4 separate regions of the Homo sapiens genome follow, and regions 1, 2 and 3 are each linked to region 4. Evidence: fine-mapped expression QTL. A gene starts in region 4. Each other region holds a variant in brackets. All regions are shown on one strand. Distances are from middle to middle. Region 1 has its middle 28 kb from the start of TEK. Region 2 has its middle 36 kb from the start of TEK. Region 3 overlaps TEK (TEK receptor tyrosine kinase). Region 4 holds the start of TEK (TEK receptor tyrosine kinase).

Region 1 (6,152 bases), 29 kb before region 4:
TGTCGCCCAGGCTGGAATGCAGTGGCACGATCTCGGCTCAGTGCAAGCTCCACCTCTCGGGTTCACGCCATTCTCCTGCCTCAGCCTCCCAAGTGGCTGAGACTACAGGCGCCCGCCACCACGCCTGGCTAATTTTTTGTATTTTTAGTAGAGACGGGTTTCACTGTGTTAGCCAGGATGGTCTCAATCTCCTGACCTCATGATCCGCCCGCCTCGGCCTCCAAAAGTGCTGGGATTACAGGTGTGAGCCACTGCGCCTGGCTGGACATATTTTATTAAATAGTAATCTCAATTGGTTTATGAGGAAAATATTATATGTCTGTATATATATAACAAATATATTTTATCGACTAGTAATATTAATTGGTTTATGAGGAAAATATTATATGTCTGTGTATATATATATATATATATATATATATATATCAAATATTTTAGAAACTTTCTTCTGAATGGGGCCTCTGAAAGAATCTGTCCAAATATTTTGTAAATTCAAAAACTGAAAATATCAGAAGGTTTGTAAATTGTGTTTACATTTAATAACTCCAGTATTCAAAAATATTTGTAGCCTGTATTATATGGTATAAATATTTCATATGATGTCATTATTAAAATGTTTTAAATTTATCCGTGTACCTACGTAACTAGTAAACTTTCATTACTGAAGTTGAAAAGCTTCAAATCATAGAGCTGTTCTAAGAAAATCTCTAAACTGAAACATACTTTGAGAAGAGTCAGTACAGAAAATTTCCAACATTTTTCCAGTCTCTCCTTTACTGATCCCACCTCTCCTGTTAAAAAGCAATACATCAAAAAGTCTGTTTGAGTATACCTTTTTATTTAAGATAATATTTACATTGGGAACTAATAAAAGTTTAGATTAAATTACATACAGTTCTCAATACATATTTATTTTAATGACATGACTGATGCTCAAGCAACTTATTAATAGTATGTAAAATGAACTGGATCACACAAATGTACATTAGAGTTTGTTACTTTGTAGGCCCTTTGTGAGGCTCTTCCTGCTCCCTTCCCAGCTACACTCTGGGCTCCCCAGGCCTTCCTCTCAACCTCACAGATCTCTGGCACTAATATCAGCAGAGGAAGGAGTGGAGATGAGGCTAACTAGACTAAAACAATGGGGAAGGGAAGAAGACAGAGCAAGCAAAGTACCTTGTGACCTTAAAATAATGAGCCATGTTTTCCTGCGTGTCTAGTGAACTGTCTCTAAAGACAATTCAAAAAAAGAAACTATAAAAATGTTGAGAATAAAAGCAACATCCTTGTGATTAAAAGCCTGCCCTACCAAGTTTGCTGCTTTGAAGCACAACACACATTTGAATGTAACTGAAAAGAAAATTTCAGCATGTTTAGAAGGTAAGAAATGCCAGGTGAGGTGCAAACCTGCCTTACAACTTGACAATTATTGTTTATAACTTATATTTCAATCTTTTAAAATAGTTGATAAAAGACATAATGTTCTCCCTTCCTCCCATTTATTATCAAGATAATGAGGAACTTCTCAGCTGAGATAGGAATAAATTTTTTTGATTCAGGGTGAAACTCTGCTGAGTGCCTGTAAATTTTCAGAATTTTTCAGTATTTTTGCCGTTGAAGCAACAGTAGTGGATGAGCAAAGAGTGAAAATTTCAATGCAAGTGAAATTTCTAAATGGTGGTGGTAAACCAGAATAGCCATGGAAGACAACATCTTTGCAGGTTCTAGGGATTTGGATGTGAACAGTTCCCCCTTCAAAAAATGTTCACATCCAAATCCCTAGAACCTGCAAATATGTTACCTTCCATGGCAAGACGGACTACAAATGTGATCAACTTAAGGGTCTTGAGATGGAGAGATTATTCTGGATTATCCAGATTGGCAAAATATAATTACAAATATCCTTATAAGAGGGAGACAAGGGGGCCAGAGTCAGAGAGAAGCTATACCAACAGAAGCAGAGGTTGGAGTGATGCTCTTTGAAGATGGAGAAAGGGGGTGTGAGTCAAGAATTGCAGCAGTCTCTAAAAGCTGAAAAAGGCCAGGAAACAGATTTTCCCCTAGAGCCTCTAGATGGATTTTACCCTAAGACACATTTCAGCCTTCTGACTTCCAGAACTGTAAAATAATAAATTTGTGCTGCTTTAAGTCATGGAATGTGTGGTATTTTATCACAGCAGCAATACAAAACTAATACAGCAAGCATTGCAGAGCATGAACACAACATATGCCTCAACCCTCTGCAGTTATTTTTTTTTCACCAGCTATAGTTTTCATCCTTATACTTATCATAATCCCATTGCCAATAACAGGAAGCACTAACGATGTAAAGTTCATCATATGGGTAAAACAAAATATGTTTGTACTATAAAGACAACCTATCAGCAAGTAAAACTTTCCATTTATCAAATTCATTTAACTAAAACTTATTGAATAAAGAAGTGACCACGGCCGGGTGCTGTGGCTCACGCCTGAAATCCCAGCACTTTGGGAGGCCGAGGTGGTGGATCAACTGAGGTCAGGAGTTCAAGACCAGCCTGGCCAACATGGTGAAACCCCGTTTCTACTAAAAATACAAAAATGTGTAAAGCATGATGGCGGATGCCTGTAATTCCAGCTACTTGGAAGGCGGAGGCAGGAGAATCACTTGAATCTGGGAGGTGGAGATTTCAGTGAGCCAAGATCGTGCCATTGCACTCTAGCCTGGGCGACTTAGCAAAACTCCGTCTCAAAAAAAAAAAAAAAAAAAAAAAGACGTGACCAACACCAATAAAAATTCCCACCCAGTTGGAATTTACATTCTAATGGGAGACATGGGCAATAAATATATTACGCAATTTTATGTAAAGATACACTTTCTGTGGAAAGCGCAAATACTAGCTGATTCTGGAAAA[G/C]TAAATCAAGTGTCCCTTCATAAACCCAACTTCCAGGTTCATGAACCCTTTACTAACTGTAAAATGTTTTTTCCTCAGGTATTCAAGTGAAACCTCCAGGGATTCCTCAAGGCCTGCCATTTCATTTCACATCAATTTTCTCAAATTTTATGGGATAATCACTGTGAAAAAAACATTTTAAATGGTCCATTTTCAAGGCATGATAAATCTAACTACTGGCAGCCAGCCTAAGGATGTAAAAAACCACACAGCTTGTGCACCTGGAAAGTCACGATAAGCGAACAGACTGTAAAGGAGAGGTCAGCCCATAAAAGGGAAGAAAGTTTCATTATTGGGAAATCAAACTTAAGCTGGGAAGGCGATGGGAGGGTATAACCTTATAAGGGGGGTAATAAAACTTAGGCTTTGTCTGGAAAGATTGTAACCCGATAGTACTCGACCAGTGAGGAACTGGGGCAGGGACTTGCATGCTAGGAGATAAATTACATGCTGATTTATCATTAGGAGATAAATTAGGAGATTGGGTGTGCCTGCCTACCAGACACCCAATCTTGCAAGACCACCATGCAAAGTCTTGCTTCCACTGTTCTTTGTGTCTCCAAGTCCATTCTTTGAGTTTGGATGGGTGAATGTGTTTCTCACAATCACTTTCTAAAGAAGGCATAAATGAATATTACTGCCATTCTCCAGCCTCTGTCCCTATTATCCACCTCTAGCCTACATGTCATGTTCTGGCCAAACAGAAAAGAAGGTTGAACTCCAGGGAATAAAAAAGCATGGTTAACTAGAAATACGACCAGTAATACCCAAGCCCTGTTAGTATGTTCCCTTTGCATTATTTGTGGATAAAGCACTTTTCAACAAGATGTGGAAGTATAATATTCTTACATTTATGCCTGAAGTTATTAACCAGTAATTGTTCCAAGTGACTTTTTTTGAATGACATTTAATGGGACTATACAGATAATTTCATACTATCCATGTTTTTACCCAACTGAGGAACTATTTACAAGATCAGACTGCAAACAGAAAATAAATCTGTGTACAAAAAAATGATTTAGAATTCAGAGATATCCTTCATTCCTTTCTCTCCTTACCCCTTACATTCCGTTCATCAGTATCTTCTAAAATTTTACCTACAGAAAATCACTTGATCAGTCAATTTTTTTCCATTTCATTATTATAATGCTAATCCAAGCCACCATCATGTTATACTTGGACCTGAATTGATCTCTCGCCTCTCTGCAATCCATTCTTCAAGAGCAGTCACAGTAATACTTTTGATTTTATTAAAGAATATTGAAAGTTCAGTAAATATAAATAATTTTACAACAAACATCAGTGTTTTCACTACCTAGAGTTTACAAATTGTTAATAATTTGTGTTTACATATGAGTGGTATTACAAATATGGTAACAGAAATGGACATTACAAATACGGTGATGTCCTTTTTGTTCTCTTCCTCATTCCCATAGTCTAGAATTAGTCACCACCTTAAATTTGGTGTTTATCCTTCCAGGCTGTTTTTATACTTTTATTCTATATATGTGTTTACAAGCAAAATATGGAATGGTTTTATATCCTTAAAAATTACATAAATGGTATCATTCTCTACTTTCTTTATTCCATTGAACATTACTTAATTGAAGGCTATCCCTGTTGATTCTTATAGATCCTGTTTTTCCATTTTAATTGCTGTGTATTGTATTCCACTGTGTGAATACATCATTATTATTTCAATTGTCTTACAGATTGATGTTTAGTTGCTTTACGTTTTTCTCTACTACAATGCCCCAGTGAGCTCACTGGTGACTTTTTGTGCACATGTATACAGCTTTCATTACCTAGATATAGAATTGCAAGATAAGGAATGCACATTTTCAATTAGATCTTCCCAAAGAGGTTGTGCTGACTTACACTCTCACCAGTTATGAATCCTGGATTCAGTATTTTCAAACTTTAAATTTTTTTCTAATTGTTGCTTTAATGGGATTTCTGTGATGACTAATGAGATCATATGACAATTGGACATTCTTTTATGAATTATCTTCTTCATATCTATTGCCCATTTTCTATTGTATTGTTTGTCTTTTAGAAGTTTTATGTTGCAAATATCTTCTCTTAGTCTAAGCCTTATCTTTTCACTTTATAGAAATTTAAAGGGATTTTTGCAATTACTTTTAATGGCAAAAACAACAATTACTTTTGCACCAACCGAAAATAAGATATTATTTGTTATTTGAAATTTTTAATCAAAGGGACATTTAAAAACAAATTAGATAATAGTACTAAGTTTTTGTTAAAATTAAACAGTAACCAGCCGGGCGCGGTGGCTCACGCCTGTAATCCCGGCACTTTGGGAGGCTGAGGTGGGTGGACCACAAGGTCAGGAGATCGAGACCATCCTGGCTAATACGGTGAAACGCCGTCTCTACTAAAAATCCAAAAAATTAGCCAGGCGAGGTGGCGAGCGCCTGTAGTCCCAGCTACTCGGGAGGCTGAAGCAGGAGAATGGCGTGAACCCGGGAGGCAGAGCTTGCAGTGAGCCTAGATCGTGCCACTGCACTCCAGTCTGGGTGACAGAGTGAGACTCCTCCATCTCAAAAAAAAAAAAAAAAATTAAACAATAACCTTACTATAAATCGTGTATAGTTTGTAGTATATCGTGGAATATAATGGAGGATGAACCTATCATTCCCAACAGTCCCTAGAATAATGCTTTGCATGTAGCGGGTATTCAACAAATATTTGTTGGATAAATGAATGATTATTTTTGTTACTGTGATAAAATTCTAACTTAAGAAACTTATACCCTGTATTGGATAGTCAAGATTCTGATTCTGAGAGTGATCAAAGCAGAGAAGTAGCACATATCATAGAGTTTTTCTTAATGGGGTTTCCTTCTTTCTAAATATACTGCACATCCTATGAGTCCCACAGTCAGGCTTACCTCAGCTAAGAGGATTGAGATATCACACAACAACCTTTGCAGGAGAAGAAAAGGTTACAAAACAGAGCAAATCTGGGTTTCAGAACAAAGGGAGTGCATGTAGAATAGTGGCTAATAGCATGGATTGTGGAGTCAGCCCAACTGGGCTTTAACCCTGGGTCTTCTACTTGTTAGCCGGATAAACTTAGATCACCTACCTTGTCTAATTCTCAATTTCAACAAATACAAAATAAGAAAAATTATGTCTCTCTCATAGCAAACCATTGGGATTAAATGACCTAATGTATTAAAGCCTCTTCACAGTACCC
Region 2 (6,152 bases), 36 kb before region 4:
GATAGTGACTTTGTGATTGGGATAACTATGTAATGAAAATTTGATCAGACTACTTATTTTCCATAGGCTTCTATTTTGTCACTAGCTGTAGAGAATTAGGGTTTTCTATATATAAATCATGTCATCAGTAAACAGAGACACTTCTTGAATTTCTTCTTTTTCTATATGGATGCCTTTTTATTTTTATTTTTATTTTGCCTAATTACTCTGGCTAGGACTTCCAGTACTGTGTTGAACAGAAGTGATGAGAGTGAGCATCCTTGTTTTGTTCCTGATCTCTTAGAGGAAAAGCTTTTCACCATTGAGTTTAACGTTAGCTGTGGGAAAAGGGAGCTTTTTGAAGCTTATTAAAAAACAGTCCAGGTTTCGGTTCTCTGGCGATGGATGGTTGGATGGATATATATAAAATATAGACACATATATATGAATATATGGATGGCTATATATGATATATATATCATATATATCATATATATATATATATGGAGAGAGAGAGAAAAAGAGGGAGATGACCACATTTATTGGTGAAAACCAACCAACTTGCCCTTCTGTAAACATAATTCAGCAAGAGTTATTTGTGGAGTACCGGAATTGGTGAGAATTTCGATAGCTTTTCTGTTATAACGCTTTTGCCAACTGCAGCAATTGATTCAGGTTTTTCTCGTCTTTTACTGTCATCGAGGGAAAATCTGTTGAGATTCATCATTTAAGCTCCCATATGTTAAGCCTCTTTCCCAGGATCAATGATTTGCTTTTTTCTAGACAAACGTTTTGTTTTGTTTTGTTTTTTAGATAAAATGACCATTGCTTCTCTAAAGGAAGTATGCAAAGAAAAGTAAAATGAGGCTGGGTGCGGTGGCTCGCGCCTGTAATCCCAACACTTTGGGAGGCCAAGGCAGGTGGATCACGAGGTCAAGAGATCAAAACCATCCTGGCCAACATGGTGAAACGCCATCTCTACTAAAAATTAAAAAAATTAGCTGGGCGTCGTGGTGCACACCTGTAGTCTCAGCTACTCTGGAGCCTGAGGCAGGACAATCGCTTGAACCCGGGAGGCGGAGGTTGCATTGAGCCGAGATCATGCCACCGCACTCCAGCCTGGCAACAGAGCGAGACTGCATCTCAAAAAAGAAAAAAAAAGTAAAATTGAAGGCATTGTAATTTAATCTAGCTATAGACTTAGAGCACCTGTACAACTTCTATAGTTGTCAGTCATTTAAATCTCTGTGTGCTGCCTTTGGAACATGGGGGACATAATGATCTACTCTTATAGAATAAGATGCTGATTAAATAGATAATGCTTTTAAAATATTTTGAATTAAAGATATTTTAATGTGTAAGTATACTGCAACTCATTTAAACAAATCTACTTGGTAGTGAAGCTATCTGATTGTACGGGAAAAAATATTGCCCTTATGATTTAGAACAGTGCGTGCAATATGAGCTACAAATGTGAGCCAAATATGTAATTTTTATTTTTCGAGATGGAGTCTCACTCTGTCACCCAGGCTGGAGTGCAATGGCACGATCTTGGCTCACTGCAACCTCCACCTCCCAGGTTCAAGTGATTCTCCTGCCTCAGCCTCTCATGTAGCTGGGATTACAGGTGAGTGCCACCACGCCCAGGTAATTTTTTGTATTTTTAGTAGAGATGGAGTTTTGCCATGTTGGCCAGACTTGAGCTCCTGACCTCAAGTGATCTGCCCACCTTGCCTTCCCAAAGTGCTGGGATTACAGGAGTGAGCCACCATGTCCAGCCCAAATCTGTAAATTTTAAACTTTAAACTTTGGACTGTGGACTTTTCAGTTAATGCTGAAATGAGTTAAGACTCTGGGGGACTGTTGCGAAGGCATGATTAGTTTTGAAATATAAGGACATGAGATTTGGGAGGGGCCGGGGCAGAATGATATGGTTTGGCTCTGTGTCCCCACCGAAATCTTGTCTTGAATTATACTCCCATAATTCCCATGAGTTATGGGAGGGACCCAGTGGGAGGTAAAATTGAATCGTGGGGGTAGTTTCCCGCATACTGTTCTCATGGTAGTAAGTAAGTCTCACCAGATCTGATGGTTTTCTAAGGGGTTTTTGCTTTCACTTCTTCCTCTCTCTTGACTGCCACCATGTGAGATGCCTTTCACCTTCCACCATGATTGTGAGGCCTCCCCAGACATGTGGAACTGTGAGTCCATTACACCTCTTTTTTTTTTTTTTTTTTTTTTTTTTTTGAGACGGAGTCTCGCTGTTTCGCCCAGGCTGGACTGGAGTGGCTCTATCTCGGCTCACTGCAAGCTCCGCCTCCTGGGTTCGCGCCATTCTCCTGCCTCAGTCTCCCGAGTAGCTGGGACTACAGGCGCCTGCCACTGCGCCTGGCTAATTTTTTGTATTTTTAGTAGAAACGGGGTTTCACCATGTTAGCCAGGATGGTCTTGATCTCCTGACCTCGTGATCCGCCCACCTTGGCCTCCCAAAGTGCTGGGATTACAGGCGTGAGCCACCACGCCTGGCCTAAACCTCTTTTTTTGTAAATTGCTCAGTCTCGGGTATGTCTTTATTAGCAGCATGAAAATGGACTAGTACAGCTGGATATGAAATTCTTGGTTGAAATTTTTTTTCTTTAAGAATGTTGAAAATAGTCTCCCTGTCTCTTCTGGCTTGTAGGGTTTCAGCTGAGAGGTCTGCTGTTAGCCTGATGGGAATCAGTTTGTAGGTGACCGGCCCTTTCTCTCCAGTTGCCTTTAATATTTTTTCTTTCATTTCGACCATGGAAAATCTGACAATTATGTCAGATTTTCCTGGGGGATGATTTTCTTGTGTAGAATCTTGCAGGAGTTCTCTGTATTTCCTGAATTTGACTGTTGGCCTCTGTAGCAACGTTGAGGAAGTTTTCATGGATGATATCCTGAAATATATTTTCCAAGTTGTTTGCTTTCTCCCCCTGCCTTTCAGGGATGCCAGTGATTCATAGATTTGGCCTATTTACATAATCCCATACCTCTCAGGGGTTTTGTTCTTTCTTTTTTTTCCTTGTTTTTGTCCGACTGTCTTATTTCAGAGAACCGATCTTCAAGTTTGGAGATTCTTTCCTTAGCTTGGTGTATTCTGCTGTTTGTAGTTGTGATTGCATTGCAAAATTCTTGTGTTATTAAGCTCTGTCAGACCCATTATGTTCTTTTTTGTACCAACTATTTTGTCCTTCAGCTCCTGTATCACTTTATTGTGATGCTTATTTTCCTTGGATTGGGTTTTGCCATCCTCCTGAATCTCAGTGATCTTTGTTCCTGTCCATATTCTGAATTCTATTTCTGTCATTTCAGCCAGTTCGGCCTGGTTAAGAACTCTTGGAGAACTGGTTTGGTCATTAGTAGAATATGTGACACCCTGGCCATTTGAGTCACTGGAGTTCTTGTATTGGTTCTTTCTCACCTCTGTGCGTGGGTGTT[A/C]CTTTAACTGCAGTGTAGATAGAGTATAACCAATAGACTTCTTTTCTGGATGTTTTCACAGGGCTGAGGCTTTGTGTAGCTATGCTTTTTATTTGAAGCTGACTTCTTATCTTTGGTTTCAGAGGGAAATATGTTAATAAGGTATTTTTGGTATTGAAACTTTGGGGTGTGATCCAGTAGGTGACACTTAGGCTTATTGGTCAGTTGGTTGACGCTTGCCCAATTGTGTGGATTCCCTGTGTTTCCTCACAGTTGCAGCTGTGTTCCCTTTCAATGCTCTGAAAGTGTGAGTTCCACTCCCCCTTGAATGCTGGCTGTAGTTCACAACTTGGCACTCCTGGGCTGCCCACTGCCAGTCTGGGGTGATCTCAGTGTTTATGTTCCTTCCCCAGCTTAGAGGCAGAAGAGGAAGAGATTTTAGTAGTGGTTGTGCCAGGGGTCATTTGCTTGACTCATGGGGGCTCCACCCCAGAGGGATATAGGTCAGCAATCATTCAGTGCAATCAGCCCAACATGGAGGGTTTGTACAGGGCCCAAGCCAGGTGTTCCCTGTCTGGTGATGAGCTGTGGGGCATGTGTGGGACCCATGGGAGCAGACTAGTCTCTGCTCCTTGGGTCAACTGCAGCTTGTTGGAGGTGTGGATAAGGCACTTAGGGTCTTTGTTCCTTCATTAGTCCAACGGTGGCAAGGGCAGTTCCACTGCAGAGGCAGTGGCAGAGAGGCTTTCAGTTGCCCTGGAGGCTCTGTCCATGGAGTTGCTGAGTTGGTACTGGTTTGATAGCTGTGGCAGGGGATGGCTGGAGGCCCAGGCCTGGTGGACCTGCCTGATGAGGACGTATGGGAATGGGCACCTACATAACAGTCCGGCCACTTTCTGTAGGGCTTCTGCAGTATGCTTGGGGCCTACTCCAGTCCCTAGTCACCTCAGATTTTCCAGAACCTGTGGGTCTCACCAGCGAAGCCTGCAAAACAGCAAAGATGGCAGCCTGTCCTCTCTGGGAGCTTTGTCCCAGATAGATACAGACCTCCTGTCAGCCCAAAGGCACCTGTAGGAAGTGGCTGGAGACCCTGATTGGGAGGTCTTGTCCAGGGAGGAGGAACAGGATCAGGACCTGCTTAAAAAAGCAGTCTGGCCACATTTTGGTAGAGCAGTCATGCTGTCCTGGGGGTTCATTGCAGCCCCCAGTCACCTCAGACACTTCAAAGCCCAAAGGCTGGAATGGCTAAGTTGCCCAAACAGCAAAGATGGTGGCTTGCTGATGTGGTTTGGTTGTGTCCCCACCCACATCTCATCTTGAATTCCCATGTGTTGTGGGAAGGACCTGGTGGGAGGTAATTGAATCACAGGAGCAAATCTTTCCTGTGCTTTTCTTGTCATAGTGAATAAGTCTCACAAGATCTGATGGTTTTAAAAAGAGGCTTTCTCCTGCACAAGCTCTCTCATTTTTTGCCTTCTGCTATCCACGTAAGATGTGACTTGCTCTTCCTTGCCTTCCACCATGACTGTGAGGCTTCCCCAGCCACATGGAACTGTAAGTCCAATTTAACCTCTTTCTTTTGTAAATTGCTCAGTCTTGGGTATGTCTTTATCAGCAGTGTGAAAATGGACTAATACACTTGCCCCACCCTCTGGGAGTGCTGTGCCAGGGGGATTCAGATCTCTGTCAGCTAGAAAGCTTGGGTCGGGGGTAGCTAGAGGCCCCTGCTGGGAGGTCCTGCCCAGCGGGGAGGAACGGGATTGGCCACCCAGTTAAAGCAGCAGTCTGTCCGTATTTTGGTAGAGCAGCTGTGCTGTGCTGGGGGATCCCCTTCTGCCCCGGGTTGGCTCAGACACTCCAAAGCCTGAAGGCTAGAACAGCTAAAGTGCCTGAACAGCAAAGATGGTGGCCCACCCCTCCCCCTGGAAACTCCTTCTTAGGGGGGTGCAATGCTGCTAGTGGCAGCTGGCTGCAATTCCAAGCCAACAGGTCTTATCTTGTGAGGTGCCATGAAAATGAGGCCTGCGGCCTGCCGCTGCTCAGCCCCCTGGATTCAGCCTCTTTCCTAGGGGTATGTACAATAGTCTAACCTCCCTCTTTGCCAGAGCTGCAGCTACTTTTGCCAGAAAGCTCAAGTATCTAAGCCTCCAGGGTCTCCACACGTGCCTTAGTGGCTGCTCTGCCAAGGTTCCATGTAGCTCTGTCTGTCAGACTGAAGACAGAAGGCCCTGGTGGAGTGGGTTCACAAGGAGATCTGACTGACCCAAGGGTTGCAAAGATCTGTGGGAGAAGCATGGTCTCCCAGGGTTGCTCATTCACTTACCACTTCCCTGGACAGAGGATACCCTGTCTTCATGTTGCTCCCAGGTGGCCATTATCCTGTCTTGCTTTTCTTCATTCTCTGTGGGTTGAGTTGTTCCCCTGATTAATGCCAATACGAGTACCTGGATGTTTCAGTTGAAGGTGTTGTATTTACTAGCCCTTTCTGTTCCTCTCCGTGAGAGCCATGTATACTAGCTGCTTCTAGCCAGCCATCTTGCCAACTGCCCCTACATTCTTCTTTCATTCTAAGTCTTTGAGATCTGATGTGTATTTTACACCTGCAGCACATTTCAGTTCACACTACGCACACTTAAGTGCTTGATGTTCACATACAGAGATTGGCTGCATGTGGGACAGTGTGGATTTAGAATTTAGAGCTTTCTATTCTTATTATAGCAAAGGGATGAGCC
Region 3 (6,152 bases), 120 kb after region 4:
TTTTTGAAAAGATAACAAAATAGACTGCTAGCCAGACTAATGAAGAAGAGAGAGAACAATCAAATAGATGCAACAAAAATGATAAAGGGGATATCACCACTGATCCCACAGAAATACAAACTACCATCAGAGAATACTATAAACACCTCTACGCAAATAAACTAGAACATCTAGAAGAAATGGATAAATTCATGGACACATACATCCTCCTATGTTTAAACCAGGAAGAAGTCGAATCCCAGTCGAAGACCAGTAACAAGTTCTGAAATTGAGGCAGAATTAATAGCTTACCTACCAAAAAAAGTCCAGGACCAGACGGATCCACAGCTGAATTCTACCACAGGTACAAAGAGGAGCTGGTACCATTCCTTCTGCAACTATTCCAAACAATAGAAAAAGAGGGATCTTTCCTAACTCATTTTATGAGGTCAGCATCATCCTGTTACCCAAACCTGGCAGAGACACAACAAAAAAGAAAACTTCAGGCCAATATCCCTGATGAACATTGATGCGAAAATTCTCAATAAAATACTGGGAAACAGAATCCAGCAGCACATCAAAAAGCTTATCCACCATGATCAAGTCTGCTTCATCCTTGGGATGCAAGGCTGGTTCAACATATGCAAATCAATAAACATAATCCATCATCTAAACAGAACCAATGAAAAAAACCACATGTATCTCAATAGATGGAGAAAAGCCTTCAAGGAAATTCAACACCCCCTCAGGCTAAACACGCTCAGTAAACTAGGTATTGATGGAACGTATCTCAAAATATTAAGAGCTGTTTATGACAAACCCACAGCCAGTATCACACTGAATGGACAAAAGCTGGAAGCATTCCCTTTGAAAACCGGCATAAGACAAGGATGCCCTCTCTCGCCCCTCCTGTTCAACGTAGGATTGAAAGTTCTGGCCAGGGCAGTCAGGCAAGAGAAAGAAAGAAAGGGCATTCAAATAGGAAGAGAGGAAGTCAAACTGTCTCTGTCTGCAGATGACATGATTGTATTTCTAGAAAACCCCATTGTCTCAGCCCAAAATCTCTTTAAGCTGATAAGCAACTTCAGCAAAGTCTCAGGATACAAAATCAGTGTGCAAAAATCACAAGCATTCCTATACACCAATAGCAGACAAACAGAGAGCCAAACCATGAGTGAACTCTCATTCACAACTGCTACAAAGAGAATAAAATATCTAGGAATCCAACTTACAAGGGATGTGAAGGACCTCTTCAAGGAGAACTACAAACCACTGCTCAAGGAAATAAGAGAGGACACAAACAAATGGAAAAACATTCCATGCTCATGGACAGGAAGAATCAATATTGTGAAAATGGCCACACTGCCCAGTGTTATCCCCATCAAGCTACCATTGACTTTCTTCACAGAATTAGATAAAACTGCTTTAAATTTCATATGGAACCAAAAAAGAGCCTGCATAGCCAAGACAATCCTAAGCAAAAAGAACAAAACTGGAGGCATCAAGCTACCTGACTTCAAACTATACTACAAGGCTACAATAACCAAAACAGGATGGTACTGGTACTAAAACAGATATATAGACCAAAGGAACAAGACAGAGGCCTCAGGAATAACACCACACATCTACAACCATCTCATCTTTGACAAACCTGACAAAAACAAGCAATGGGGAAAGGATTCCCTATTTAATAAATGGCGTTGGGAAAACTGGCTAGCCATATGCAGAAAACTGAAATTGGACCCCTTCCTTACACCTTATAAAAAATTAACTCGAGATGGATTAAAGACAAACGTAAAATCTAAAACCATAAAAACCCTAGAAGAAAACCTGGGCAATACCATTCAGGACATAGGCATGGGCAAAGACTTCATGACTAAAACACCAAAAGCGATGGCAACAAAAGCCAAAATTGACAAATGGGATCTAATTAAACTAAAGACCTTCTGCACAGCAAAAGAAACCACCATCAGAGTGAACAGGCAACCTACAGAATGGGAGAAAATTTTTGCAATCTATCCTTCTGACAAAGGGCTAATATCCAGAATCTACAAAGCACTTCAACAAATTTACAAGAAAAAAACAACCCCATCAAAAAGTGGGCAAAGGATATGGACAGACACTTCTCAAAAGAAGATATTTATGCAGACAACAAACATGAAAAAAGCTCATCATCACTGGTCATTAGAGAAATGCATATCAAAACCACAATGAGATGCCATTTCACACCAGTTAGAATAGCAATCATTAAAAAGTCAGGAAATGACAGATGCTGGAGAGGATGTGGAGAAATAGGAATGCTTTTACACTGTTGGTGGGAGTGTAAATTAGCTCAACCATTGTGGAAGTCAGTGTGGCGATTCCTCAGGGATCTAGAATTAGAAATACCATTTGACCCAGCCATCCCATTACTGGGAATATACCCACAGGATTATAAATCATTCTACTATAAAGACACATGCACACGTATGTTTATTGCAGCACTGTTCACAATAGCAAAGACTTGGAACCAACCCAAATGCCCATCAATGATAAACTGGATAAAGAAAACGTGGCACATATACACCATGGAATACTATGCAGCCATAAGAAAGGATGAGTTCTTGTCCTTTGGACGGACATGGATGAAGCTGGAAACCAACATTCTCAGGAAACTAGCACAAGAACAGAAGACCAAACATTGCATGTTCTCACTCATAAGTTGGAGTTTAAGGATGAGAACACATGGACACAGGGAGGGGAATATCACACGCCTATCGGGGGGTGGGGGCTAGGGGAGGGATAGCATTAGGAGAAATACCTAATGTAGATGACAGGTTGATGGGTGCAGCAAACCACCATGGCACTTGTATACATATGTAACAAACCTGCATGTTCTCCACATGTATCCCAGAACTGAAAGTATAATAATAAAAAAATAAAGATACATTTTCTTGCCTAGAACCTTGCTTCTGCTAAGATTACTTTCAAAAGTAAGATTTATTC[C/G]AAGGGTAAGAATAATGAACTGTAGTGATACCAGCATTCCCAGAACTATCCGTGGTAGAAGCTAACTGGCATGTTTGAAGACTGCAAGGCTCTAGGTTGAGCAGATAATTTATTGTCTAAATGGAGCTACTTCTAAGAGTGAAGGAGGGTGTTAATCTCACTGGAGCAAGAAGCATACATACCATCCTGGAAAAACCTGGACATAGTTGACCATCACTAGACAGTCCCTAAAATTCCACCTTTTGAGATTCACTTCATAAGGGGTGAGAAGATTTTTTAGTCTTTAAGAAACTTATGTTAAAGTGTAAGCTGTTCTGGGATCTGTGACACCCTAAGCCAATGGTTGATAGCCTTCCATGCACATAAGGTTCCCCAGAGTCATTTGTTCAGCATGTGGGCTCTTGGTCCCCACTGTCAGTCATTGATTCTGTAAGTTTAGGGCAGGTTCCAGAATTCTGCATTTTAATAACAGAGTAGTTCTGAGCACAACTGAGTAAGCACTGTCTTAGGTCAGTGTTTCCCAAACTATGTTTTCACGTGTTGTGCAAGATATAAATACATGATGCAAGGGGAAAGGAGTTCTGCGGTCAATTACTTTGGAAACTTTGTGTTAAACCTGTTGTCTTAGTCATTTCCGGCTGCTGTAACAACATACCATAAACATGGTGGCTTATAAACAACAGAGATGTATTTCTCACAGTTCTGAAGGCTGGGAAATCCAAGATCAAAGCGCTAGCAGATTTGGTGGCCATGAGCCATTTCCTAGCTCATAGATGGCCATCTTTCTGCTGTGTCCTCACGTGGCACTAGGGGCAAAAGAGCTCTTTGAGGCCTTTTGTGTAAGAGCACGAATCCCATTCATGAGGGTTCTACCCTCATGACCTGATCACCTCCCAAAGGACCTACCTTCAAACACCATCACATGGTTTCAACACATGATTTTTGGGTGGCATGAACATTCAGTCCATAGCACCTGGTTAAACAGGCATTTTTTTGTTTTTAATGACAGTGCTTCTAAAAGTCCTGCCTCTTAAAGGGACTTTATGTGGGTGGCATTTTACAAGTTTGAGCATGGGCCCTTTAAGAGACACTAACATTTTGAAATATGCAGCATTCCAAGGCAAATGCTGCTCTAGACACATACCCAGTTCTTTCTAGATGATTGCAATAGCTGAGACCAAGGTCCTGCAGAAACAGTACCGAGGGTAGGAACTAAATCTATGAGGAGTTGAAATGAGACTGGCTTAGGGAGGTGGGAGTCCTCATAGAAACTTCCTAGGGGCTGTACTTTGGTTAAGCTTCATAACCATGCATTGGGTGGCTTCATTCTCTCCTCTCTTTTCCTGCCGTGCCTAGGACTGAAGCACAGTTATAGAATTAACCCTTTAATTCTTTGCTTTCGAAGGTATGATCTAATGAGACAATGCTGGCGGGAGAAGCCTTATGAGAGGCCATCATTTGCCCAGATATTGGTGTCCTTAAACAGAATGTTAGAGGAGCGAAAGGTAAGTATTAAAGTCAGGCAGGAGATCTTTAATTGGAATACCTGATGTGCCCAGGGTGGTTCATAAAAAACATTGAAATAATTGAAGAAGTTCTTCTTGGCATGGCCCTAAGTATTATAGAAACAAAGGATGTCCCTCCACCCCCGCGACTTTGAAGAAGTTACAATTTTGGGGGGAAATAAGATTTCTATACAAGATACAGTCACGTACACACTAGAATAACATACAGAATTAGCCTATTAGAGTTGGAAGGAATTTTCGTCATATAGCCTGACCCTTTAATTTTATAGATGAAGAAACAGACTCAGAAGTGGGTGACTTGACCAAGGACACACAGCAAGTAGACAACAGAGCCTGACCTGCAGGTTACTATAATGAGGGTCAGGAACTCCATAAAAATTTCTAGAAGTAAGTTGGCTGTACCGATCTGGGAGTCAAAATAAAAGTAAACACAGTTTAAAGAAATAGTCATCAAAACCCAAGTGGTAATTCAACTAGAGATGCAGGTGAGATCACACAGATGTGAAAATGAGATTCAGACAGAGGAAGGAACCCAGAAGAAGGAACCCTAGGGAAGCTGAACACATTAGGAGGTACCAATAAGACACTGTGAGAAAGGCAAGCTCAGAAACTGAGGATACAGTATGAAATCTTACTTGCAGAACGCAAGGGGATGCATTTTAGGAAGAAAGTCATCAAATACAACAGAGGGACTGAGGACAGAAAAGTATCCCCCAAGTGCTTAGTATATGAGTTGCAACAAACTAAGAAAACCAAGGTATTGCTGTAACTGCCGCTGGCAGAGGTGGAATCAAAGCAGCCTATGTCTCTGAACCATTTTCATTCTTCCAGACCTACGTGAATACCACGCTTTATGAGAAGTTTACTTATGCAGGAATTGACTGTTCTGCTGAAGAAGCGGCCTAGGACAGAACATCTGTATACCCTCTGTTTCCCTTTCACTGGCATGGGAGACCCTTGACACCTGCTGAGAAAACATGCCTCTGCCAAAGGATGTGATATATAAGTGTACATATGTGCTGTACACCTGGGACCTTCACCACTGTAGATCCCATGCATGGATCTATGTAGTATGCTCTGACTCTAATAGGACTGTATATACTGTTTTAAGAATGGGCTGAAATCAGAATGCCTGTTTGTGGTTTCATATGCAATAATATATTTTTTTAAAAATGTGGACTTCATAGGAAGGCGTGAGTACAATTAGTATAATGCATAACTCATTGTTGTCCTAGATATTTTGATATTTACCTTTATGTTGAATGCTATTAAATGTTTTCCTGTGTCAAAGTAAAATATTGTTAATAAACCTAACAATGACCCTGATAGTACAGGTTAAGTGAGAGAACTATATGAATTCTAACAAGTCATAGGTTAATATTTAAGACACTGAAAAATCTAAGTGATATAAATCAGATTCTTCTCTCTCAATTTTATCCCTCACCTGTAGCAGCCAGTCCCGTTTCATTTAGTCATGTGACCACTCTGTCTTGTGTTTCCACAGCCTGCAAGTCAGTCCAGGATGCTAACATCTAAAAATAGACTTAAATCTCATTGCTTACAAGCCTAAGAATCTTTAGAGAAGTATACATAAGTTTAGGATAAAATAATGGGATTTTCTTTTCTTTTCTCTGGTAATATTGACTTGTATATTTTAAGAAA
Region 4 (6,152 bases):
TGTGTTTTTTTCCCAATCAACAGTATACCATAAACATTTTCACATCTTTTTATGTCAATCTGATTTCACCATAGTATTTGAACACTTGTCTGGAACTTCATTGTATACCATGATTTTTAATAAATAATCCATTTTTGTTGACCATTTTGATTATTTCTAGGCTTTGATTATTATCAACTATGCTTCTATAATGTCCTTATACACAAATTTGGGGGCACATATTTGATTTTGGCTTGGTGTATATCATAAAAATGGATTTTCTGGTGGGGCGCAGTGGCTTACACCTGTAATCCCAGCACTTTGGGAGGCCAAGGGGGGGGGGGGGTGGATCATGAGGTTAGGAGTTCAAGACCATCCTGGCCAATATGGTGAAACCCCATCTCTACTAAAAAGTATAAAAATTAGCCGGGTGTGGTGGTGCACGCCTGTAATTCCAGCTACTCAGGAGGCTGAGGCAGGAGAATCGCTTGAACCCAGGAGGCGGACGTTGCAGTGAGCCGAGATAGTGCCACTGCACTCCAGCCTGGGCGACAGAGTGAGACTCTATTTCAAAAAAAAAAAAAACTGGATTTTCTGGGCCAAAGGGTATGCATACAAGGCTTTTGCTTTGTGTTTGTGATGTTGACCTCTTGACATGTGATACCAGTGTATAGTAGTATTATGTAAGTTATTTTCCACCTCTTTCAGAAAAACCGTTTTGTTATCTATTGATACCTTTGTTAATTAGTCTCAAAGACTTTTAATGTTGTCTATAGTGTTTTTCATGTATTGAGTGCAAAAAGCAGGAAATAGAAAATGAAGAATCAGCCAAGAGCCTTGTTTGTTTGTTTAGTTTGGTTTGGTTTTCTTTATGCTTTTACTGTAGGTATGTCTGGAAAAATCAAATTAAATGGAATGAGCTTGACTCATGAGGAGGCCCCTTTCATTTTCCTGAAGTGAATTAATACAGCACCCACCGATCCTGACATTAGTTATTTCAGAAGCACACTAAGAACTGACCGCACTTCTCAGTGTCACCAAACTATTCTTATCTGTCAAAGTTTCATTTCAAATACTTCTGTAAGGTCTAGGTGTACCCTGCTGGTGTTTGTGATGTCCTACATTACTCTTGATCTACTTTTCAACTATGAAACAAGGGAAAAATTGGAGGTCCAGAGCTCAGGATTCAGATATTATTACCTCTGCTACTCACAGCAGAGCAAGTAACTTAGCCTGTGTGGAACTTCATTTTTCTTTCTTTTTTTTCTTTTTTTTTTTTTTTTTTTTAGACAGAGTCTTGCTCTGTCACCCAGGCTGGAGTGCAGTGGCACGATCTCGGCTCACTGCAACCTCTGCCTCCCAGGTTCAAACAATTCTCCTGCCTCAGCCTCCAGAGTAGCTGGGGTTACAGGTGCACGCCAGCAAGCACAGCTAAATTTTGTATTTTTAGTAGAGATGGGGTTTTGCCATGTTGGCCAGGCTGGTCTCAAACTCCTGACCTCAGGTGATCCACTCCCAAAGTGCTGGGATTATAGGCGTGAGCCACTGTGCCAGGCCCACTGTTTTTGTTTTTTTTTTTCGTGATGACAAATTTAAAGTCATCTCATAGGAATAGAAAATAGCTTTTTAGTAGAAGCTCTTGGAATTTAAATTGAGACTGAATGGAAAGATGAAAGAAAATAAACTTATTAACATTTAATGAGAACCTTCAAAGAACTAGGCATAGTACCAAATGGTTTTATATTTTTAAACCTCATTTATTCCTCTCAAAACACCTGGGAAGGAGATATTTTTGCCATTTCACAGCTGTTGAAACTGAGGCTCAAAAAGACTAAGTAACTTTTCTCAGCTACACATGTGGCTGAGCCAGTATTTGAACCCAGTTCTGTTTGCAGACAGAACCTGGGCTTTTTCACACCTGCAAACTGGAAACATTAATTGGTTCTTAAGATCATCATCGATGTGATAAAACCTGGGACAGAAATTAGTCAAGACTAGCTGCATCTGCCTTTTCCTCTGGTGGGTAGGAAAAGGAGGAGTATAATGATTTCCTCAGGCATGAAGGTCGATGATGAGCAAAGTGTATACTCTCTAATCTAATGTCATAATTCATATTGTGGAGTAATTATCTGGATAAGTGTAGGGTCTCTGACCTCATTCTAGATATTGTACATTCCATGGCTATTTTCATTTTGGTCCATGAACTCTCTTTGCTCTCATGAGCACCATTTTTATCCCAATCTAATCCTGTATGTTTGTGTTTTTACACAGATTAGTTTTTAAATGTTATATATAATTTGCTTCTGAAACACCATTGCTCAATGACTACCAAATCTTTCTCATTACCAAAATCCTTCTATGCCAACTTCTTCAAGAAATTTGATCACCTTTAGATGAATTGTTAATGAAAATTAAAGCTATAGCCGGCAACATGGGTATCTTTGGGCTAATGGCCAACCAACAGGCCATCTGTGTGAAAGAAAACAGGCTAACAATTTTGGACTCTGGTCTCTTGGGGCTACATTGAGCATTGACCTCACCGGTGCTCACTGAAATTAATTGCTTTTCAGGTTGTATTTTCTCATCACGGAAACCTTCTTCTCCCAATTCAAACCATGTGGGTTAAAATGAGAAAACAAAAGCCAAAACGGCTTCCCACACCCAAAAGCTCCTTCTGTCAGAGATCCCAGTAGCCCCGGGAGAGCTGTTAGAAGTCTGAGAAGGATTGGTCATCATCGCATACCATACATAGGTGGAGGGCTTGTTATTCTCAGTTTCCCGCCTATGAGAGGATACCCCTATTGTTTCTGAAAATGCTGACCGGGACCCACACTTCCAACAAAAATTCCTCTGCCCCTACAGCAGCAGCAAAAGCAGCAGCAGAAGCAACAGCAACAGATAAGTGTTTTGATGAATTGCGAGATGGATAGGGCTTGAGTGCCCCCAGCCCTGCTGATACCAAATGCCTTTAAGATACAGCCTTTCCCATCCTAATCTACAAAGGAAACAGGAAAAAGGAACTTAAAACTCCCTGTGCTCAGACAGAAATGAGACTGTTACAGCCTGCTTCTGTGCTGTTCCTTCTTGCCTCTAACTTGTAAACAAGACGTAGTAGGACGATGCTAATGGAAAGTCACAAACCGCTGGGTTTTTGAAAGGATCCTTGGGACCTCATGCACATTTGTGGAAACTGGATGGAGAGATTTGGGGAAGCATGGACTCTTTAGCCAGCTTAGTTCTCTGTGGAGTCAGCTTGCTCCTTTCTGGTAAGGTTTGGCTTTATTTTTTTTAATTTAGTATTTTAAAAAACAGAGTTAGTGATTTCTGGGTGCTCTCCCCAAATCTCATCAGTGCTGATGAACAAGGGGTGGCTGTAGCAAAGGCACCATTTCTCTGTGAGTCTCCAGTCAATATGTGTGGAAGGATTGAAATGCAAAGGCTCTGTGGCATGAACTGATTTTGCTAGTTTGTCTTCTGGGTGATTGGCCCCTGTGTTAGAAACTCTTTGAGGACCGATTAAATCATCTTATTTGAAGAGATCCCCTTACTATCATGCATTATTTTCCTGCTCCTCATTCTGGAGTGTTTTTCTTATTGATTTTTTTTTTAAAGAACAAACCGGTTTTACCTGCTTTAAAGAAAATCTTCAGTAAAAAATGAAATTCATGCTGAGAAATACAGGGGCCCAATTAAGGCAGTGTATAGATTGTCACTGTTAAAAGGGAACAAAGATGCTTTTCTGTAAAAAGATTTTATATCTACATCCTATTTTAAGCAAAGCAATGAAATTGTAGGCTTTTTTTTTTTTCTTGTAGTTAGGGTCAGGGAGATTGGGGCTATTAGAATTTTTGTTTTATTTTAAAAAATGTTTGCCATGTAGTAATTCATAAAGGGTTTACTGGCCCAATGAAACAAAAATTTAGGCAGTTACCAAAATCTTTAACACAGGAGAGTATATGAAGCCTGTTGTAGAGTGAAGGAGTGGTTGGCCAGTGTGTTGGGTTCAGCGTGTTTATTGCTTAGATACTCCAGATAGTGGTGTGCCTCTGTAGCTCACTCAGCCTATGTGACATAGGTAGAAGGCAGTATCCAAACCTGAACTACATATCACAAATACATTTATCATTGCCATCAGTCTCTCCCCTTCGGTTTGAAAACATTCTAATTTTAATAACGAAAATCGAATTGATATTGGAGATGAATTTGGGAAAATTCACTAAACTTCATGGATATAGGGCATATTAATATAATTTGATTCGAGTATACATAAGTATCTGCTATATTTTCTAGGTGTTTGAACTATTTTATTAAATATTCAAAAAACAAATCCAATGAAATAACTGAGTTGAATACAGTTTGTTTTATAGCTCTCAACAACCAATATTTTGAGAATTTAATAATATTCTTTAAGAATGTGTAACACAAGTTGCTAAAAATTAAAAGATTTTAGGTGGCTTCAGTATTTATGTGGAAATTGTTTAAATAATGTTGACTTCTCCAATAATATGTACTTCAAATAATTATCATGATTCCATTTTTGATTTTTTTTTTTCTGAGTGCCATTATTTACCAGTGACATGAAATCTGGAACTTACTCTATACCAGGGATTATAGTGATGTGAAGCCCAGGTGTCTATAGTTTCTCTGAGGTACTTTGTAGGTTAATACACACACAACTGTTTTCATTCACTTTTTTTACTCCTAAAGCAACTGTGTTATAGCACTTTGCAATACAGGCTTAGAAGAATTGTCATAAAATCAAACAAAAAGGTATGTAGCCAAAATACTTGTTCCATGTCTAGACCTCAGATCCCTGGAAAAAACAGCACTGCCTTTAAAAGGCAGAGGACCAAGGAGAGGAAGTAGGTTCATGTTCTTGTTAGGAAGGGTGACACTAGCAAGGTTAGTTTCTGAGGTAGGTCTGTTGTCTTGATCGTAGCTTGCATTCCTAGTCTAAGCCTCCATGAGCATGACTGCTCAAGGCTTGATAATTGCAACAAGAATCCAGCTAGATAATGTCCACAGCCATAGGAGCCCGTTCCTCTAGTCAAACTCCTGGTAGACTAAAGCAGTGGAGCAAGGGGCTTATGGCTTAAAGGTTTATCTCTCTAGTCCAGTGGGTTGTTTCTTGTTTCTTTTTTCTGAACCCACAGACTGAAAAAAAAAAAAAGCCACTTTTTTTTAGTGAAGGTGGCTCTGGATGACAGAGTTGTTTACCCATAAGAGGGCTGGAGGGGATGTGTAGCTCTCAGAAGCTCCTTACAAATACTCCTAGATTCTGTTGCTTTCCTTTTCTGAATTGAGAATCATTGCTAACTTCAGCTTTCAAACAGGTTCTATTATATTAGCTTTTCCCTACTCTTCCTCATAAAACCAGGCTGTTCTCTTTAAAAAGTTGTATATGTAGAAAACTAACAAAAAAATCACTGTGATTTATCATAGTATCTTCTACGTGATCAACAATGATCTAATAGGAAGTCTCTAGTCTCATGCTTTCATACCTCTTTACTGTGTCACTTGACTTTTTTTTTTTTTTTTTTGAGATGGAGTCTCGCTCTGTCACCCAGACTAGAATGTAGTAGAGTGATCTCAGATCACTGCAACCTCCGCCTCCCAGGTTCACGTGATTCTGTGCCTCAGCCTCTCGAGTAGCTGGGACTACAGGCGTGCGCCACCATGCCTGGCTAATTTGTTGTATTTTTAGTAGAGACGGGGTTTCACCATGTTGGCCAGGCTGGTCTCGAACTCCTGACCCCAAGTGATCCGCCCGCCTCGGCCTCCCAAAGTGCTGGGATTACAGGCATGAGCCACCACGCCCGCCCTTGTCACTTGACATTTTAAATAACAACTGGATTCAGAGATAGCAGACATCTTGTCTGGGGTGGCAGAGGAAACAGTTGTAAGGTCAGGGAAGTGCTCCCAGATGAAACCCCCTTGTTAGGGCTGGTCTCAGAAGGCTAGTGTCAAGTCTGAGTAATCAAGGGTGGAGGTCTGAAAGCTGGGATCGGAGACACCCTTTGGAATTATTCTCAGAGGGAGGAGCTTGCTTTTTTCACAGATGCTCCCTTCCAAGCATTGTCTTTATTGTTTGTTAGGTCTCAGCATTTCCCTTTCAGCCCTGCCCTGGGAGAGCTTCCTGGAAGAGTCTAGTTCTTCCAAGGCGTCTCTCCAGG

Evidence for each region. PIP is the estimated chance that this variant, and not a neighbour inherited with it, causes the effect.
Region 1: its variant is the best candidate, but not a certain one, in a credible set for the expression of TEK in whole blood (TOPMed, PIP 0.71).
Region 2: its variant is the best candidate, but not a certain one, in a credible set for the expression of TEK in whole blood (TOPMed, PIP 0.82).
Region 3: its variant is the best candidate, but not a certain one, in a credible set for the expression of TEK in whole blood (INTERVAL, PIP 0.68).

What each region holds. Positions count from the first base shown.
Region 1 is chr9:27,077,797-27,083,948 of GRCh38, forward strand. No RefSeq gene overlaps it. Among named protein-coding and RNA genes, the nearest start is that of TEK, 28 kb to the right of the region's middle. RefSeq lists a silencer at 3,062-3,262. The variant G/C (reference allele first, on the strand shown) is at 2,895.
Region 2 is chr9:27,070,581-27,076,732 of GRCh38, forward strand. No RefSeq gene overlaps it. Among named protein-coding and RNA genes, the nearest start is that of TEK, 36 kb to the right of the region's middle. The variant A/C (reference allele first, on the strand shown) is at 3,442.
Region 3 is chr9:27,223,837-27,229,988 of GRCh38, forward strand. TEK (TEK receptor tyrosine kinase) reads left to right here. Exons shown (of 23, transcript NM_000459.5): 22 at 4,370-4,469; 23 at 5,322-6,152. The coding sequence ends at 5,396. Among named protein-coding and RNA genes, the nearest start is that of EQTN, 70 kb to the right of the region's middle. The variant C/G (reference allele first, on the strand shown) is at 2,965.
Region 4 is chr9:27,106,398-27,112,549 of GRCh38, forward strand. TEK (TEK receptor tyrosine kinase) reads left to right here and starts at 2,828. Exons shown (of 23, transcript NM_000459.5): 1 at 2,828-3,245. The coding sequence starts at 3,194. LOC124902134 (a long non-coding RNA gene) reads left to right here. Exons shown (of 2, transcript XR_007061440.1): 2 at 1-144.